Linked DNA regions of Homo sapiens. The protein of the gene in region 1 interacts with the protein of each later gene in a pairwise test. Each region holds a gene or a part of one and is shown in the gene's direction. Other genes may lie near its edges. The genes, in order: TBX5 and KDM6A.

Region 1 (9,989 bases):
AAAAGAGCAGGCTCCTTTTGCTGCCTGTATTTCTAGAGACAGAAGGGCTTTTCAACTTTCACTTTAATTCTCTTGTGTCCTTGCTTCTTCATGGATGTTCTTAAGCTGTAGAAGAAAATAGTTTTATCTTCTCATCTGGAGGACTTTAGAGATTTCTGTCATACTAACCACGTCTCTTTGGTTGACCGTTCCTTTGATCCATGGATGAGCTCTGTGAAAATTGCCCCGCTGTTGTTTGATTCTAACATTTTCTTTCCTTTGCATGTGTAATTCTATAATGATTGAGAAGTCACTTCCCCATTCCATGCCCATATTTTGACACTTGTCAGAGGGGTTTGGGGACATCGTATTTCAGGCATTAACAGAGATGTTCACGATCGGTGTTGGGGATGATGTTTCAGGCTCTTTAGAGGGAAACAAGCTGTGAGGGACAAGTGGTTATTGGGATGATATTGCTTTTCCCACTTCTGTGTTAGTAATCAAAAGCAGGACTTGGCCTTTCCAGAGAGCAATTTTGCAATTTGGCTGTACTGGAACGGAGAATTCCACGGAGTCCATTGATACATTCTCTTGTAAACTCTCTCAGCCAACATTTTTTGGAGGTTATTTTCTTTAATTAAAAAGAAAAACTGTTCCTATTAAAAATATAAAACCAAAAGAGATTTCCCCCTTCCTCTTGGAGCTCTGACAGCAAAATATTGGAACTAAATAGATCTAAATAGAATTGTCGGCAAGTTTTGACAACTTTTATAATGTTTTATTGTTATTATAATTTTTCTTCTTTTTCTTTTTTTCTTTTTTTTTTCCATTACGTAGCTTGAACCACAAAGCAAGAGCTGTAAAGCTAATTCCATTCCCTTCAGCCTCCTGGCCCCAGGGGGAGATTCTGACTGGTGCGGCTGCTCGGATGGCTCCAGCTTTGGTTCTGAGATGGCACAGGGAAGCTGGGCTAGGAGACCCCTGGGTGTCCTGAGGGTGTCTGTAGACTCATGGAAACTTGGCAGATGCTCTGTGTTCCTGCCTGGCCACTCTGGTGTGCTTTCACATGACAAACAAAGGCAGGGACATAGGGTGGAGATGTTCACACACTTGAGGGGGTAGAAGTAGAAAGAGTCTTGTACCCCAAAACCCTGCTCCCCTAAAAGCATATTGTGTTCTAAAAATTGAAAGACATCATTAGGATACAATGCAAAAGTTATGAGGAAATGATTGGATTAGAATTCTAGTTGTGTCTCTTTCTAACTCTGTGATCTTGAACAAGTTGCTTCATCTCCCTGGGCCTCAACTTCCTCATCTGTAAAATGGGATCAAAGATAATACCTATCACATAGAGTCATAGAAAGGATGAAATGGACGAATTCAAGATCCTTCAAAATGCGTTACGTGTAGCTCTTTGCGCATGATATTATTTCAGGTATACTCTTTAATTTTAATAGTTAAGCATTGATTGATTGATTGATTGATTGATTGATTGAGACAGGGTTTCACTCTGTCACCCAGGCTGGAGTGCAATGGTGCAGTCATAGCTCACTGCAGCCTCAAACTCCTGGGCTCAAGCAATCCTCTTGCCTCAGCCTCCTGAGTTGCTATGACCATAGGCACATAAACATTCGTCTTAATTGCATTAAAATAACTATAATTAGCACCACAAGCCTGTAATTTCACAGATATGATCACTTATAGTGAAGCTTAACTTATTTAGATAAATGATTAATTTTTAAAATGTCATAAGTTAAAGAATAGATGGCTGTATGTCATGGTGAAAATTGTGTCTGACTGAAGTTTGGGATTTACTGACACATGCTCCTTCTAGGATAGGGGTTCTTAAACTGTTTGATGCCATGGGCCTCTCTGGCAGTGTGTTGAAGCCTATGAATCATCTCTAAGAATAATATGATTAAATGCATGAAATAGAATACATAGGTTACAAGAGAAGCCAATTATATTTGAAATATAGTTACCAAAATATGTTTTAAATGGCTGTTTAGCAATATATGCAGTTTGTAAATGCCATGCCCAAGATTCCCTATCCCCATCCTAAATGCTGGATATGGGATGTTAGGGGTCAAGCTCTTCTTCTCTCACATACTTGGATATTTCTCTCTTTGTCCCTTCTATCTTGAAGCACCCCCACCCCCACCTTCTCTCTACTCCTCTGCAACCTTCCACATCCCATCCATTCCCCACCTCTCTCATTTCCTTTGAGCCTCCTGCTGCTGCACAGCACGACTTTCCTTCTTCCCAGGAGAGGTTTCTACTGAGTCCTTCTGAGGAAAAAAAATGGGAACACCTGGTATGAAATCTGAAGGTAAGGGAATGTGGAGGACCAGTCCTAAGAGTGTGAGGGGCCAGATTTTGAGCACACTGAGGGATGCTATACCTATGATGTCATGGAATTTTTATTATGCTTACTTTGCCTGTGTGAGCCCTGAAGCTCAGGGGAGGGTTGTGTGTCAGATGGACACACAGCCTGTAAGGGATAGGGATGGGGCCTGAATTGGGAGCTGCGTAATCTTAGATCCCATGCTGATTTTTTCTTTTCTTTTCTTTCTTTCCTTTTTTGTTTCTTTTTTCTTTCTTTCTTTTTAAATCTTCTATGTCCTTGTTCCTCCTTCTTTCTCATTTTCTTTCCCTCTCTTTTTTCCCTCCCTCTATTCTCTCTGCCCAAAACAATAACAGTAATGACGATGGTTGCCATTTGTTGAGCATTTACTCTGTGCCATGTACCTTTCTGAGTCTTTTCATGGTTAACTCATTAACCCGTTTCTTCTATCAACAGCCCTTTGAACTGGGGACATTCATTATCCCTACTTTACAGATGGGAAAACTAAGGTATGGAGAAGTTAAGTATATCAGTGGCCACAAGGACAGAAGCTCAGGAGGAAATTCTGACACTAGCAGCAATCTATCCAGATGAGAGTAACTTAGGATTATACCTGACCTTCCTAGGTTGTCAGCTACCAGTTTTTACTAACTTTGGGCAATGACCTGAGCCCCACCTTAAAGATGGACACCCACAGGTTAAGTCTAAATAAATACTCAGATTAACTAGCTTTCAAATTAGGGAATTTAAAGACATACATAGACTAAATTGACATATTTCAAAATACCATGTGTGTTTATTGATTGTTAAAAGGGGTTCTTAACTGGGGGTGTTTATTTACTTTTCTGCTGAGGTATAGAACTGTTGGTAAATCTACTTGCCTAATGTATAAGGCATGAAAAATTAGTACCCAAATATACATTTGTGAAATATGATGGACATGAATATAACTGGATCATTTTATTCATCAAAGACCTCTTTTTTTTCCTTATTCTGTGACTTTTCTGGTGGATTCTCTCACACCTGGTTCAGCCACTCAGGAAATCTGTATCAGGGCACTGATAGGCGTTATCTCCCATCTTTTCTCTTTCAGTAAAGAATATCCCGTGGTCCCCAGGAGCACCGTGAGGCAAAAAGTGGCCTCCAACCACAGTCCTTTCAGCAGCGAGTCTCGAGCTCTCTCCACCTCATCCAATTTGGGGTCCCAATACCAGTGTGAGAATGGTGTTTCCGGCCCCTCCCAGGACCTCCTGCCTCCACCCAACCCATACCCACTGCCCCAGGAGCATAGCCAAATTTACCATTGTACCAAGAGGAAAGGTGAGTGTGATCACCCCTGGTCAATTTGCTTTCTTTCTTACCTTTTCCTTTCCTTGGGTTGGGGGTGAGGGGGTGAGGAGTATTCATTTATTTACTTTATTTATTTAAAAATGTAAACAACACAAAAATATATGGAGATAAGAAATTTAAACCAAACAGCTAAAACAAAAAGTTCCCTTGACATGTTCCTACCCCCAGTTCCAGCCCCTCCTTTGGAGAAAGCTTATTTGAAATGTTCAGACCTATTGTATTCATTTATGCACACATACACGTGGCGAGTGCAGAGAAAGAACTAGATTTATTTTTACTTTTTTTTTTCTTTTTTTTTTTTTTTTGAGACAGGATCTTGCTCTATCACCCAGGCTGGAGTGCAGTGGTGTAGTCATGGCTCACTGCAGCCTCAACCACCTGGGCTTAAGTGATCCTTTCACATCAGCCTCCCTAGTAGCTGGGACTATAGGCATGCGTTCACACACTGTACTAAATTTTTGTTGTTGTTGTAGAGACAGGGTCTCACTGTGTTGCCCAGGCTTGTCTAAACCTCCTGGGCTCAAGTGACCCACCTGCCTTGGCTTCCCAAAGTGCTGGGATTACATGCCTGAGCCACCACACCCAAAATTTTTTTTAAAAACTTTTAATATAGATGAAATCACACTGTATGTATTTTGCAACTTGCTGTTTTTTTTCTTTTAAACTTTAGAATGTGTTTTGGGTATCTTTTTATGAACCTAGACTGCCTTATTTTATTTTTAACTGCTAAGGAGGAAGAATTGACTGGAAAGGATAAAATGGAGTTTATTTTGTCACTCCCTCTGGTAGGCAGGGAGGTTGCTTGAGTGGTCCCTGATGGTATTACAAGCCGTGATGCAGGAAAACCCCTTGTGACTATCAATGCTTCTCTGGCATATGTGTCAGTGTTTCTCCCAGGTGGATTTTGAACTCTTTTTTTTTTTTTCCTGATCAAAACCAACACACACACACACACACACACACACATCACAAATGATTTTCCCCGTCTCATCCCCCATTTAAATCTACTAAGCTGAGGCATTCCGCAGTTTTCTTTGCCACATGAGAAATAAATGGCTTTTTTTTTTTTCTAAGTCATCCAAGTCCAAAGGGGCTAAGCTAAAGAAAGAATTTTCTGGTGGCCCTTCTTGTGAGCCAGAATAGAAGTGTTTGGCACAGGTGGTGTGGTGGAGTTCAGCTCGATAGAACCATTGCTTGGTGTGAGCTGTAGATGGTATGGTGGGGAGACTGCAGCCTTTGGGGACAGAGAGATGCGGGTTTGAATCTCATCTCTGCTCCCTGCTTCTTGTGTGACCTCACTCAGGTGTTCTAGCCTCTCCTAGCCTCAGTTTCTCACTTTGTAAATGATATGTTTCCTAAAGCATCTGATAGTTAGCAAGTACGCAGTAGGTGGCAGCCATGATTGGGTATGTGGCAGATATCGCTCCAGAAGGTGATTCCCAGGAGGAATCTGCCTCTTGTCTTTGGACTGGCATTAATTTAATCAGTCTTCCCAGAGAAGACTGCCTCTCTAGGTGAGAGCTTGAGAAGACAGATACAGAAGGGATGGGGTAGGCTAAAGTTTACATCTGTGGTCTGTAGAATCAATCAGGATGAAGTTCACCTTTGCAATTTAAAAATTTTCATAAGTAGTGACAAGTTGCTTAACCTTTCCAAGCCTCATTTTTAAAAATCTGTAAATATGGGCTCAGGGTACGACTTGTCTCATAGGCTTGGTGCAGAGATGTCAAAAAATCATACACATCATATGTTATCTCAGGGTTGACTCAGAAAGTAGTAGCTGTTTTGCTCTAAAAGACACTAATTTTAATCTACAAAGTGGCCTGTTGAACCTCACAGCCTCAGTGGTCAACACAAGCCTTTGTGAATCCAGTGCCCAGTGCCTAGCCCTTTAGGAAAAAATAACTCGCTAACAACCAATGGGAATGGATGCTTTGGTAGCTTTTTCTGGAGCTGGGGTTACATGAGGAAAGTAACATAGTTTGACTATTTGACATTTACCAATCTTGCGTTTTAAAGGAGGGAAGAGCTGTCATTGGTATTTACATGGGGCTAGGAGCTGACCTGGATGAGGCCTGACTTCCAGACTTACCTGAAGCCAATCCAAACTCCTTGAATCTCAAAGGCCTGAACAATATCACTCCAACAGGCCCCCTGGCGTGACTCCCGGCACGTCTGCTGCCGGATGGACTGGAGACCAGATGCCTGCAAATATGTCTGCCTCTTTAGGCATGAGCAGGAGGTTAAGAATGTCCTATGGGACACAGGTCCCTGAATAGAGATTCTGTTTTATATTATATTTAAGGGTGCCCTTCCTAAGTCCCAGATCAAGCTTTTTCGACAACACTATGGAGTAGATGCTATTATTAACCCACTTTATCAATGGGGAAACTGAGGCTCAGAAAGGTTCCAAACAAAAACTGCCAGTGGTTCTTGAACCCCAGCCTGGTCTGCAGATTCTATACGTGTGCATTTCACCACTACTCTATACCGTCTTGGTTACCTTTGCTCATCTGCTACAATCTCAAAATTTCATTTTCCACTGAAGATCTGTCTTTGAGACTGGGTCAAACATGCTGATTAAGAGCTCACCAGGTTTGAATTCGGGAGCTCTAATCGATTAAATTAATGCCAGACCAAAAGACAGGCAGGAAGAAGTTAAAAAGGATCATGGTGCTTTTTAGGTTCAATATTTACAGCAGCATCCTTATAAATGCATCCCTGAAGGATGCGGCAGGGAGGCTTTGAATGCACGGTTCACAAACCTCTTAGGTTATGACTTGACTTTCATGGACTGTTTGTTGGATCCTTGGATGAGCTTAAAATCAACTTGGAGTGGCCACTGGGGAAGCTGGAGTTGGGGGCTGATCCACTGTAGTAATACTCACAGTTGACGACACTTGGCAGCTGTGTGCCCAGGGGCAAGTTGTTTTACCTTTCTGGGCCTCAACTATCTTTTGTGCAAAATGAGGATAACAATAGCACCTGCTTGATACGGTTGTGATGAGGGGAAATGAGATCATCCACAGAAAGCACCTAGAACAGTGTCTGGCACCTACAAGTGCTCAATGAACATGTGCTTGCCACAGGCCTGCCCTTGTGAAGCTCATACGGTTGCAAGCAGGTTGGACATTATACAAGTAATTATAAATTGCTTAATTGAAATTGTGAAGCCTGGCACTGTGGCTCACACCTGTAATCTCAGCATTTTGGGAGGCTGAGGCTGGAGGATTGCTTGAGTCCAAGAGTTGGGACTAGCCTGGGCAACATAGTAAGACTCCATCTCTACAAAAAATAAAAAATTAGTCTGGCATGTTGGCACATGCCAGTGGTCCTAGCCAACCCAGGAGGCTGAGATGGGAGGATTGCTTGAGCCCAGGAGTTCGAGGCTGCAGTGAGCTGTGATTGCACCACTGCACTCCAGCCTGTGTGACAGAGAGAGACCCTGTCTCAAAAAATAAATAAATAAAATAAAATAAATGATTGAATGCTATAAAGGAGATATGCAAAGTGTTAAGGAATATCAAACTGGAGTGTCAGTCTAGGGTAGGCAATCAGGGAAGCATTGAGGCTGAGATCAGAGGAGACTGAGTGCTGGATAGGAGAAGGGGGAGGTGTGAGGGTATCCACACATAGAGGAAAGCATGCATGAAGCCCCTTGGCTGAGGGAGAGCCTGCCCCCTGGGGAGTGAACAGAAGGCTGAGATGTTGGCACTCAAGGCAAGGGCAAAGTGGTGGGGGATGAGGGCTAGAGGGGAAGGCAGGGACCAGTGAGATGCCAGCCTGTATAAGCCATTTTAATGAAAGATGTCAGATTTTATCCTACCACCAGTGCACGTCCATTGGAGGGATTTAAATTTGTGAGTAACATGCCTAAGTTCTTTATTTGGAAGCAGTCACTGTGCTATGATAGCACAGGACTATTTAGTTGGCACCAGAGACCCATTGAAAGGCTGTCATGGGGTCTGAAACAGGAGATGGTGGCTCCGACCAGGGTGTGGGGAGAAGCTGGAGATGTGGGTGGAATCAGGCCTTAGTGGCTGGTTGGCGATAACAAGGTGAAGAATTACCCCACTTCTTTGTGGATTTGGAAACCAACACTGAGGAACTTACCCAAAGTCACTCAGCTCGTGAGTGGCCCAGCTTGAGATGTATACTGAGGCCTGTGGGCTCAGGGTGAATGGGGTATGCACCCTGGAGAAATCCTTTCACCTTTCCAGAAACTCTGCCCTTCTCACCTCCCTCCACCCCCAAAAGGGAGCTCCCAGTGACAGGGAACATTCCAACCGAGGGCTCTCTGTCCTGCCTAGGAGACAACAAATAGCAATTCATCATCAGCCTCCACACTGTAAAGTGATAAGGAATCAGCCGAGGTTTCCTTCCAGTTGGGATTCTCATTAAGTGATAACTCCATGGGTGGTTTTCCCCCTGGCCCCTGCCTGCCCCACTATCTGACTTCCCCTCATTGTCTGTCTCCTTTCCAATGAGCCCAGGAGTCAGGCCCAATGAAATGTCACAGGGCCAGGCAGGCCGGAGGGCTCCTTGTGTTTGGAACCGGCTGTCTCCAAACTATCTCTCCCGATGGACTGAGCCAAAAAAGCTGGGAAGGTCTTTTATCAATGCCACTCAATCAAATCCAGGACCCCAGGGCCTGGGAGAGCACTTGTCTGTCTTTCTCCCTCTCACCCCTGACTCTCACCCCCACTCGCATTAGAAACTAAAAGCAACCCAAATAAAGATTCTAGCAAAGCCATGAGCTGAATCAGATATTCAAAGGAAAGTTAGAGATTGAGAGGGGAAGGGGAATTCGATATGGAAAAGGGCTTTGCAGGGTGCATTTTCTGAGTGCTATGTTTTAAAATGCGATTTCACATCCATTCCTTTGCTGATTCTCCAGTTCCCTGCAGCAGTCTTTGGACTAGGGGAGATGCCACCCATCTCTATTTTGCAGGGATCTAATGGAGGACCAAGAGACAGGGTTAGATTTTAAGCTTATGTGGCTGATGATTGGCAGATCTGGGATGGATGCATCAGATTAATCTTTATTTATTGAGCACTTAATGTATAATGGACACTGTGCTAGGTGCTTGGGATAAGTGGAGGACATGGTGGAAAAGGCTCCCGCTCTCAAGAAACTTGAATTCTTACTGGATGAGACATATAATAAGCCAGTAAGTAAATTTATTGGTTTCAGGTAGTGACTAGGTGATGTTTCAAACTGAGTCTTTTGATTTCTCGTTGAGAATCTTCGCACAATACCATTCCAACCCTTCCTACTTTATGCTAAGAGCATGGGGACACCAAAAACAAATAACAACAACAACAAAAACAACAACAACAAAAAGTCATCCACCCACTCATCCACCCACCCACCAATCCATCCACCCACCATTCACCCATCCACCCACCCATCCACCCACTCACTCATTCATCCATCCACCCATCCATCACTCATCTATCTATCCACTCACTCATCCATCCACCCACTCATCCATCTACCCACTCATCCATCCAGCCATCACCCCACCTATCCACTTATCCATCCACCCACTTATCCATCCCCCCACCCATCTATCAACCCATCCATCCACCTACCCAACCACTCACTCATCCATCAACCCACCCATCCATTCACCCATCTACCCACCCACCCATCCATGCATCCATCCACCCATCCAACCACCCATCCATCCACCCACTCATCCACCAATCCTCCCACTCATTCATTCATCCATCCATCCACCCACCCACCCACCCATACATCTATCCTCCCATCCATCCATCTACTCATCCACCCACTCATCCATAAGAGTCAAGGTTTGCTACCTTTTCATGTTGGCTGAGCATGTAGGGTTGCGTGAAATGGAAAGCCTGGGGCCATCTGTCAGAATGAGCACTGCTTTGTGAGTCAGAAGACCTGAATTATAGCCACCTTCCCAACTTGCTGAAGGTCACTCAGCTAGAAAGATTACTACTCTGAGTTTCAGGGTCTCTGTCTGGGAAGACTCGCCAATGGTTCTTCATCTGAATGAACTGAATTGGCAAGAGAAATGACCCATTTGGGAATAGTGAAAATATTTGCTCAATAGGATTAGTATTTAAAAGCACTCTGTGAGCTTTCCAGCTCTGTAATCTACCCAAATACTATTAAGTATGGGACAACTTTCAGAAAGCTATCTATCCAGTCTTCCAAAAGAGAAAGAGGGAAAAGAGAATGGACCCAGGTCATTTGGACAGACAAGATTTGAATGCTTTATGTGCAAGGAAGATAAAAACTCAACTGCCCTCATTATTACCTCAATTAAATCTCATAAAA
Region 2 (9,989 bases), on another chromosome or scaffold:
ACACTATTTTGATAGGCAATAATCATATAACAGGAAGTGGAAGTAATGGAAACGTGCCTTACCTGCAGCGAAACGCACTCACTCTACCTCATAACCGCACAAACCTGACCAGCAGCGCAGAGGAGCCGTGGAAAAACCAACTATCTAACTCCACTCAGGTAATAGGAGGACTAGCTTCCTTGTTGGCTTTTCACATAAATGTTTTTACTGGGTTTTATACACTTTGAGAGAAGAAGAGAGAAGTGTTTGGGGAACTGGTTTTATAAGAATTTTGTGGCACTACAATGTTACTACATTGTGATTCATTATGTACATACATGAGTATATCTTTGTTCCCTTTGTACAGTCTCTACCGACATAGATAACTTAGCAAATTTACAAAGGAAGAAAATAGATCATATAAATCACCCAAAATGCACCATTAATTTACAGTGGCATCATAAGCACATTTATGTAATATTACTTAGTTCATTTCTGCATAAACTGCCTACTTAAGATCAGGCACTAAACTAGGTGTTAGGTATTTGCTTTAGTGGGAGAAAAAGACCAGTGAATAAGTATTTACCATAATGACTGTGAAGTGTGACTTTGGTGGGAAAGTTCTATCAGAGTACCTACGAGAGCACATAACCAAGATGTCAGAGTCTTCCAGAAGCTAGAGTTTAGGGGAGGAGAGGGCTGGTGAAGTGTGCCTAGAAGATAGGTTATGAAGAGGGGAGGGTGAAATAAGAGGCTGAGGGAGAGGCCAAATTTATCTTGAAGGCAAAGTTGATCCACTAAAGTTTTTGAAACAGAGTAATGAATTGCATGCACATTATTTTTGTCAAGGAAATGGGTCATAATGTATTCAACGTTAGCACATTCGTTAGACATTTAATTTCTAAGTTTTTACTTCTGAATGTTTATGTGCATAGTATTTCCCATATTTTGGATTGTTTCCATGATATGGGTACTCGCTGAGGTGAAACTGAAGGGCCAAAGAGTAAGTTTTAAGAAAATGCTCTCAATATGTATAGCCAAATTGCTTGTACTTTTATTAATTTACTATGAGAAATATTTGACTTAAAAAGAGAAATATTTGGCTGATTGTCGGTTAGTCTTATATTATTGATAAAACTGAAATAAGTTCTTTTTCTAAGATTTTTAAGTTTATTCTTGAATTAATATCCTTGGTGGGACCCTGATCTAAAGTGATTAGTACTTTATTCATTCTTAGAGAAATACTGAGTACCTACTAGGTTCATTTCCTACTCAAGGCTCTGGGAATACATCAATAAAGAAAATATACTGAGATGTCTCTACTTGGTGTAGGTAAATAGATAGTAAACAAATAAGCAATACATATATAACATTAGATGATGGTTGTGATTAGTGCTATGGAAAAAAGCACTAATAGAAAGGGAACAGCAGAATACTAGAGATTGGTGGTAGGAGAGTTGCAGTTATAAATCAGAAGGGCAGGGAAGGCTTCTCTGAAAGATAGCATTTGGATGAGAGTTACAGGAGTGAGCCTTGAAGCTATTTGTGATAAGATTGTTCCAGGTCTAGGGAGCAGCACGGAGCAATGGACCCTAAGGTAGGATTGTGCTGTGCACATTTGAGGAGAATCAAGGTGGCAAGCATGGCAGAACAGGACAGGCAAGGAGTGAGAAGAGAGAGAAATGTGCTCCAGCTGGAAACAGGATGGCTAAATCATGATCAGCCTTATAAGGATACTGGATTTTATTCTGAGTATCCAGGAAACCGTAGGGGGATTTTGAACAGAGGAGTGATGTGATCTAACTTTGTTTTTGACTAGGTCCTCTTTGGTACTCTGTGGATAGACTGAAAGAGGCAAAAGTAGAAATGGTATGACCATTTTAGAGATTATACCTGTAATCCAGGTTAAAAGTTGATGATGGCTCCCAGAGTGGTAGTAGTAGATGGTGGTCAGCTTCTGGGTATATTTGGAAGGTACAGCCAACAGGATTAGTTGATATAGAGTGATGTGTGAGAAAGGAGTCCCAGCTGGCCTGACCAACTAGAAGGATGGATGAAACTGGATGGTATCACCAATCAGTGAGAACAGATTGAGAAAAGAACTCAAGATTGAGCCTTAGGGCATTCCAGTGTATTAGGCTAGGAAATTGAAGAACTAGCAGAGAAGAATAGAAGAGATTGACCTGTGACATAGTAGGAGATCAAAGACAATGTGAGTGATGCCCTGGAAGCCAAATGAAGAAAGTTTCAAGGAGGAGGACATGATCAAATAATGCTCATAGGTCATATAAAGTGAGGACTGAAAACTGACCATCTGAGATATTTGCTGACATTATTGGAGTAAGGAAACTACAGGTTACAGGCAAAATTTACCCCACGACCTGTGTTTTTTATAACCCGTGAGCTAAGAATGATTTTTATATTTTTGAAGGGTTGTAAAAAAAGAATAATATATGATACTGGGTGACCCACAAAGCCTAAAATATTTGCTATCTGATCCTTTACAGAAAAGATATGCTGACCATTGGATAAGGGCAATTTCAGTGGATTGTTGGGGTGCAAAAGCCTAATTGTAGTTCGCTTCAAGATAATATAAAATCGGCAGAGAAAAACTGAAGTAGCAAGTATAGACAGTTCCAGCACACATGCTTACAGTTGTTTGGGCTACACACTGCACAGTGCCAAGGCTTCCATTTCCATATACCGTGGCATAAAAGAGAACAACAACCGGGTGTAGCTGACAGGGAAAATGGGATTAGGAGTTGTTGTCTTGTTGTTGTTTTAAATTTAAAATGAGAGAAATAACAGTAAAAGTCAATGGGAAAGATTCAGTAGAGAGGGAGAAAATGGCAAAGGAGAAAGGGGAATTGTTAGAATGGGTGAGAGGATGGGATTTTGGGGGTTCATTGTCTTTAAGCATTAAACAGTTGTTAAAAGGATAACACGAGATTTTTGTTAAAATGCCTATCATAGTTCTAAGGTATAACTGGCAGTTAATAAGTGAAAGCCTTTGTTATGATTGTAAAGCATAGTTCTATTTTCTTTTCTCTCACATCTACTTCTTTGGCTCACTTAGTTGCTGAAGTTTTCAATACTCTCTTAACCCTGTTTTGGAAATGTGGGATTCTTTAAAAACGTAATTCGTAATTCTAATAAAAAGGAACTCCTCAGTTGGCAGGCCACGAGGCTTCTGTAATTTACCATACTAAGTAGCAGGGAGCCCCCAGCCTTTGCTTCACACGCCCTTCAAAGCCATTATCTGTAGGAACTTTACAATTTAAGTAATGAGGTTGAGAGAGTTGTTTAGAAAATGATGTTGAACTGATTCCAGGTCAAAAGTTTCCCAAATGAAGTTTCTGCATATCACTACAGCTGGGAAGCCTCTGTCTCTGCTGTTGATATATGGTATTAATATCATAGACTCTAAAGAGGCCTTTTTGGTAACTTGTCTTATACAAACCTATTTGAATAATTTTTGAAATTGTAATGAAAACTAGACAACTGGTAGACCTATATGGTATATCTACCTTTTAGTTTTTGATCAAGGGAGGAATTTACATTACAGTGTGGAATGGGTTTATTCAGATTGCTTTTGGTAGCAAGGGTATAATTTAAGATATGAAAGTAAAATTATATTAATTGTAGGTGATTATTCAGCAAGTACTCTAAAGAATTTGTAGCTTAAAATACCTTGATTTGCAGATAGAGAAGATGTAATAAAATAGTTACTTTGTCACATTTCTGCATATTGTAATCAGTGTATTTGTTAAATAATTGGCCTCTGAATTAAATATTTTACATTTGATGAAATTTTAACTCACCTACCCAGACTTTCTTGGATAATATTTTAAATATTGATATGATTATAATATGCAGTGTTTTTGCTTTATGAGAAATTTTCATGTAACTTACAAATTTCAACCTTCCTTTATTATGATTGAACTTTGTTACTTATTAAATCATTTACAACTAATTGCACTCCTTTACACACTCACTGGTGTGTATCTTTTTTTTGTTTTTTTTTTTTTTTTTGAGATGGAGCCTGGCTCTGTCGCCAAGCCTGGAGTGCAGTGGTGCGATCTTGGCTCACTGCAACCTCCGCCTCCTAGGTTCAAGTGATTCTCCTGCCTCAGCCTCCCGAGTAGCTGGGATTACAGGTGCCCACCACCATGCCCGGCTAATTTTTGTATTTTAATAGAGACAGGGCTTCACCATGTTGACCAGGCTGGTCTTGAACTTCTGACCTTAGGTGATCTGCCTGCCTTGGCCTCCCAATGTGCTGGGATTCCAGGTGTGAGCCACTGCGCCTGGCCAATGTGTATCAACTTTTAATATATCTAGTGTTTTAGGTAGATAAGCCTATTGAGTAAAAACATTAGTTTAAAATTTTCAGCTTCAGAAACTGATTTTAGGGGCATGCTAGCTGACTTTAACTAGATGATTAAATGCACCTTTTAGTATATAAATATCTTGTTATCAGCTATAGTTTTATTCTTTTATAGCTTATTACTGACAAAATGCTCTAACCTTGTTGCTGAAGTAATCTCAACTCCAAATGTAAACTCGTTTTATGATTCCAATGTTACTTTAATCAGTGTTGCTGAAAAATTGGCTGTCCTATTTAATTATTTTGTAAGTAAAATGAAATGAAAATATTCTTCTTAAAGAAGTTTCTCTGTGACACCAGAGGCAAATTTCAGGTAAAAATTAGTTCCAGTTATCATATTTTCATTCTATTAAATGCCCTAAGTGATCTTCCTCTAGTCTTAAAACTTCTATTAACTGTTAGTATACTGCCCCCTCAGATTGCTTTAACAGTAGCAGTGTATTTTTCTAAGTTTTCAAATTCAGGTGATGAAAAATAAAGTTTATCTCAAAGTCATTAGTGGAGACTTAAAATGTCTTTTTCTCCCCTTTTTTTTTAAAAAAAAAAAAAAAAAAGAGAGACACAAGGTTCTGCTCTGTCACCCAGGCTGGAGTACAGTGGCACCATCTTAGCTCACTGCTGGCTCAAACTCCTGGGCTCAAGAGATCCTCCCACCTTGGCCTCCTGTGTAGCTGGACTACAGGCACACTTGTCAACACACCTAGCTTGTCTGCCTGCTTTCCTTCCCTCTCTCCCCTCTCTCCCTCCTCTCTCCTCTCTCTTCTTTCTCTTTCTCTTTCTCTTTCTCTTTCTCTTTCTCTTTCCCTTTCCCTTTCCCTTTCCCTTTCCCTTTCTCTCTCTCTTTTTCTTTTGTGGAGACGGAGTCTCATTGTGTTGCCCAGCCTGGTCTCGAACTCCTGGCCTCAAACGATCCTCCTGCCTCGGCCTTCCAGAGTGCTGGGATTACAGACATAAGCCACTGCACCAAGCCTATCTAGTCTTCTAAATATGTGTGGATGGATAGATGGGGAAACTTTAGGTATTTTTTGAAATATTTTCATAGATTTAATAGTTCTGCCCTTAATTTTGAGGATAGCTACTTTAACAATAGGATTTGAATTACAGAAGATTATATTTTAATGATAATTTTAAAGGCTTAATGAACTCACTTTCTATATTAATCTTTTAACAGATCACAGACCAGTGAGAGTTGGTTTATGTTGATCCATGGTCATAGCTTTTAATTATTAATGATGATATATGTCTATCCATGTCTGATTTTAGAGATGAAAATATGTATATTGGAACTTAAAATTTGTAATGCTTCATCTGAAGTAGTTTATTCTACACTAATAATGGAGTCATTTTAGATAGCAAGGAAGAAAAATTTCTCTAAAGATGTTAAATACTGATTAGCTAAGTTGCAGGTACTTTTTGATAACTTTAGGACTTGGGTCAAATTATCTTATACAGTTAGATATTTATTTTTAGTGGCTTTTCTCTTTAATATTTTAAATTCTGTATATTCTGAGTTTGCTTAATATTAGATTTAAACTATTTTTCTTTCTTTTTAGGGGCTTCACAAAGGTCAGAGTTCACATTCGGCAGGTCCTAATGGTGAACGACCTCTCTCTTCCACTGGGCCTTCCCAGCATCTCCAGGCAGCTGGCTCTGGTATTCAGAATCAGAACGGACATCCCACCCTGCCTAGCAATTCAGTAACACAGGGGGCTGCTCTCAATCACCTCTCCTCTCACACTGCTACCTCAGGTGGACAACAAGGCATTACCTTAACCAAAGAGAGCAAGCCTTCAGGAAACATATTGACGGTGCCTGAAACAAGCAGGCACACTGGAGAGACACCTAACAGCACTGCCAGTGTCGAGGGACTTCCTAATCATGTCCATCAGATGACGGCAGATGCTGTTTGCAGTCCTAGCCATGGAGATTCTAAGTCACCAGGTTTACTAAGTTCAGACAATCCTCAGCTCTCTGCCTTGTTGATGGGAAAAGCCAATAACAATGTGGGTACTGGAACCTGTGACAAAGTCAATAACATCCACCCAGCTGTTCATACAAAGACTGATAACTCTGTTGCCTCTTCACCATCTTCAGCCATTTCAACAGCAACACCTTCTCCAAAATCCACTGAGCAGACAACCACAAACAGTGTTACCAGCCTTAACAGCCCTCACAGTGGGCTACACACAATTAATGGAGAAGGGATGGAAGAATCTCAGAGCCCCATGAAAACAGATCTGCTTCTGGTTAACCACAAACCTAGTCCACAGATCATACCATCAATGTCTGTGTCCATATACCCCAGCTCAGCAGAAGTTCTGAAGGCATGCAGGTTAGTGTGGGAAAGTTCATCAAAGTGAAAATGTTTGACTTACTGGCATGATCAGAATGCTGAAATTTGGACCGTTTAAGATATGGGAAGTAAGCAAAAGATGGTGTAGTCATTCATCTAAGAGTTTGACAGAAGCTTTATTTTGCTTAGATGTTGTAGTCAAATCAGATGTGAGAAGTATTCCTGTAAATTGCTTATTTTGAGTGGGTGTGTCTGATTGTGCTGTTACTGCCCTCTACTGGTTACTAGGTTGTCAGCTTCAGTGTGATTGACTTCGCTCTGGGGATTTAAACAAGAGAATGGGTTAAATCATATTTGGCCAAATACAGCAAGGCTGGAAAACCCTATGGGTTTTTTTTTTTTTTTTATCAGAGCCTATTAAATGTTAGGCTAGGAATGGACCCCATCACTTATCAAGGCTAGTCTTTGCTTACAATTGAGAAAACTGGACTGTTTGAATCTAGAAGAGGTTATAAAGCAGGCAGAAGAGGAAGGAAGAGGTCAGGGGCAATGGGCAGTGGAGAGACATGACAGACTGTCAGCCATTCTGGAAGGAGCCAGACATATTCTGCTAGTCTAGGAAGGGCAGGGCCTCAGAAATTTATGAAGAAATGAACCTCCTCTGTCCCACAAAAGAAGAATCAAAGGATCAGGCAGCATCATCTTTCTCTGATATTTGGAGGACATATAGATTCTTACTGGCCTTTTCATTGTATATGACACATATATAATTTTTCTCATTTACTTGTAGTTGTTGTCCTCTATAAGTGACTAAATCTTGAATGAAATTTAGTTAACATAACTGGAACAAACAAATAATTCTGTAATATTTTCTGATACATTAAATGTTAAGTTTGAGCAGACATATAGTAGATTTTAAAAAGATCTTTTTTTGGTTGTAGATTGTCATGATATATAGAAAATAACCATTCTATAAATAGAAATTATAAACATTAGTTCTAGTTTGGCTACATTGACCATTTAATATAGCTTTTACATTTTAAAGTTCAAAACAATTCTTATTTATAGCCATATAAACCTCTTCCTGCAGTTGCTAGTACTTATATGTCTTATTTATTGTTATGTAAAAGTGTGATTATCTTTTCTGTTGTTCAGATTATTTTATTAGAAGGTATCCTGGGTCTACCGTTAAATGTTTGTCACTGACGAATGATTGAGGTGAAATTAAATTTTATTTATATATAAGTTTGCTGCTTGGGAGGGATGTGGGGTAGGAGCAATGGAGTATGGAGAAGAAATTTCAATTAATTTAAATTTATCGCTTTAATTGTGACACTAGAACTTTACTATAAATTACACTATAGTCATTTTTCTTTAAAGAGTTTGAGTGTTAAAAATACCTTTTGGTCTGTGTTTTCTTTTCTTTTCTTGTCTTTTCTTGTCTTTTCTTGTCTTTTCTTGTCTTTTTTTAAGACAGTTTCGCTCTTGTTGCCCAGGCTGGAGTGCAATGGCGCGATTTCAACTTACCGCACGCTCTGCCTCCCAGGTTCAAGCGATTCTCCTGCCTCAAGCCTCCCAAGTAGCTGGGTGGGATTACAGGCATGCAGCACCACACCTGGCTAATTTTGTATTTTTTAGTAGAGACGGGGTTTCTCCATGTTGGTCAGGCTGGTCTTGAACTCCCAACCTCAAGTGTTCCACCTGCCTCTGCCTCCCAAAGTGCTGGGATTACAGGCGTGAGCCACTGTGCCCAGCTGGTCTTTGTTTCATTTTCTATTAGTTTCTATTTCTGTTAGTTTCTATTTCATTATTTCCTGTCAAATTTTAACTATTTAGTTGTTATTCTGACATAGACTAGGGCAGAAATTACATCCTTTTTTATATTTTATTTTTTTCTTTATTGGGTCCACGTTGTTGGCAGCATTTTCCTTAGTGACCTACAACATGGTGATTGCTGTAATTAATCTTAACTGTCTTACAAGATTTTTTAAGGTCAGTAACTTAAGAGGACATTGGATGATCTCTAAATGAAATTCTTCTAAAGCATATAGTGAGGTTCTTGAGTTCCTAAAATTTGTTTCTTTAGAAATTTTTATATTATAGGTTTTTATATTAGTTTTTTTTTTGAAGTTAGGCTATCATTCAGTTCAACTCTGGGCCTACAGAAAATAGGGAGTGTTCAGATTAAATGCTACACTTGGCTCTCCTTAGACAGTGCCTTGATTCACTGCCAGTTTGACTGTCTTCTACCTGCTCCTCACTCATCTGCTGGGGCCTCTGTCCTGTTTCCTAGGTACTGCTGCTCTAACTGCTGGAGCAGGGGCTTTCTCTCTCATCCACTCTCTGTAGACTCAGGACAGTTGCTAGAAAATGGGGAAGATTTGGAGGTTCAAAACTAACATCATGAACTGCATGGGACCTAAGGAGGAATATTGTCAGAAAGAGTTCCATGGAGCTATGTTCTGTTCCCCAAGTTACAAACTGTGTATAGTAGCAGTTTTCATAAGTTTGTATTAATAAATTGTATATTATTTAAAAAAATATAATAATATATATATATATACATATATATACTTTAAGTTCTAGGGTACATGTGCACAATGTGCAGGCTCGTTTCATAGGTATACATGTGCCATGCTGGCCAGCTGCACCCATCAACCTGTCATTTACATTAGATATTTCTCCCAATGCTATCCCTCCCCCTGCCTTCCACCCCACAGCAGGCCCCGGTGTGTGATGTTCCTCACCCTGTGTCCATGTGTTCTCATTGTTCAGTTCCTAGCTATGAGTGAGAACATGCAGTATTTGGTTTTCCGTCCTTGTGATAATTTGCTCAGAATGATGGTTTCCAGCTTCATCCATGTCCCTGCAAAGGACATGAACTCATCCTTTTTTATGGCTGCATAGTATTCCATGGTGTATGTGTGCTGCATTTTCTTAATCCAGTCTATCATTGATGGACATTTGGGTTGGTTCCAAGTCTTTGCTATTGTGAATAGTGCCACAATAAACATACGTGTGCGTGTGTCTTTATAGTAGCATGATTTATAATCCTCTGGGTATATACCCAGTAATGAATGGGATTGCTGGGTCAAATGGTATTCTAGCTCTTGATCCTTGAGGAATCTCCACACTGTCTTCCACAATGGTTGAGCTAGTTTACACTCCCAGCAGTGTAAAAGTGTTCCTATTTCTCCACATCCTCTCCAGCATCTGTTGTTTCCTGACTTTTTAATGATTGCCATTCTAACTGGTGTGAGATGGTTATCTCATTGTGGTTTTGATTTGCATTTCTCTGATCACCTGTGATGATGAGCATTTTTTCATGCG

What was found.
Region 2: the proteins of TBX5 (region 1) and KDM6A interact in a two-hybrid assay, tested with the Homo sapiens proteins (one study listed by BioGRID).

The regions. Positions count from the first base shown.
Region 1 is NC_000012.12:114,359,819-114,369,807, reverse strand, and holds part of TBX5 (T-box transcription factor TBX5), read left to right. Parts: intron 1-3,416; coding exon 3,417-3,643; intron 3,644-9,989. UniProt on the Homo sapiens protein: DNA-binding protein that regulates the transcription of several genes and is involved in heart development and limb pattern formation. Binds to the core DNA motif of NPPA promoter.
Region 2 is NC_000023.11:45,063,660-45,073,648, forward strand, and holds part of KDM6A (lysine-specific demethylase 6A), read left to right. Parts: coding exon 1-158; intron 159-5,919; coding exon 5,920-6,698; intron 6,699-9,989. UniProt on the Homo sapiens protein: Histone demethylase that specifically demethylates 'Lys-27' of histone H3, thereby playing a central role in histone code. Demethylates trimethylated and dimethylated but not monomethylated H3 'Lys-27'.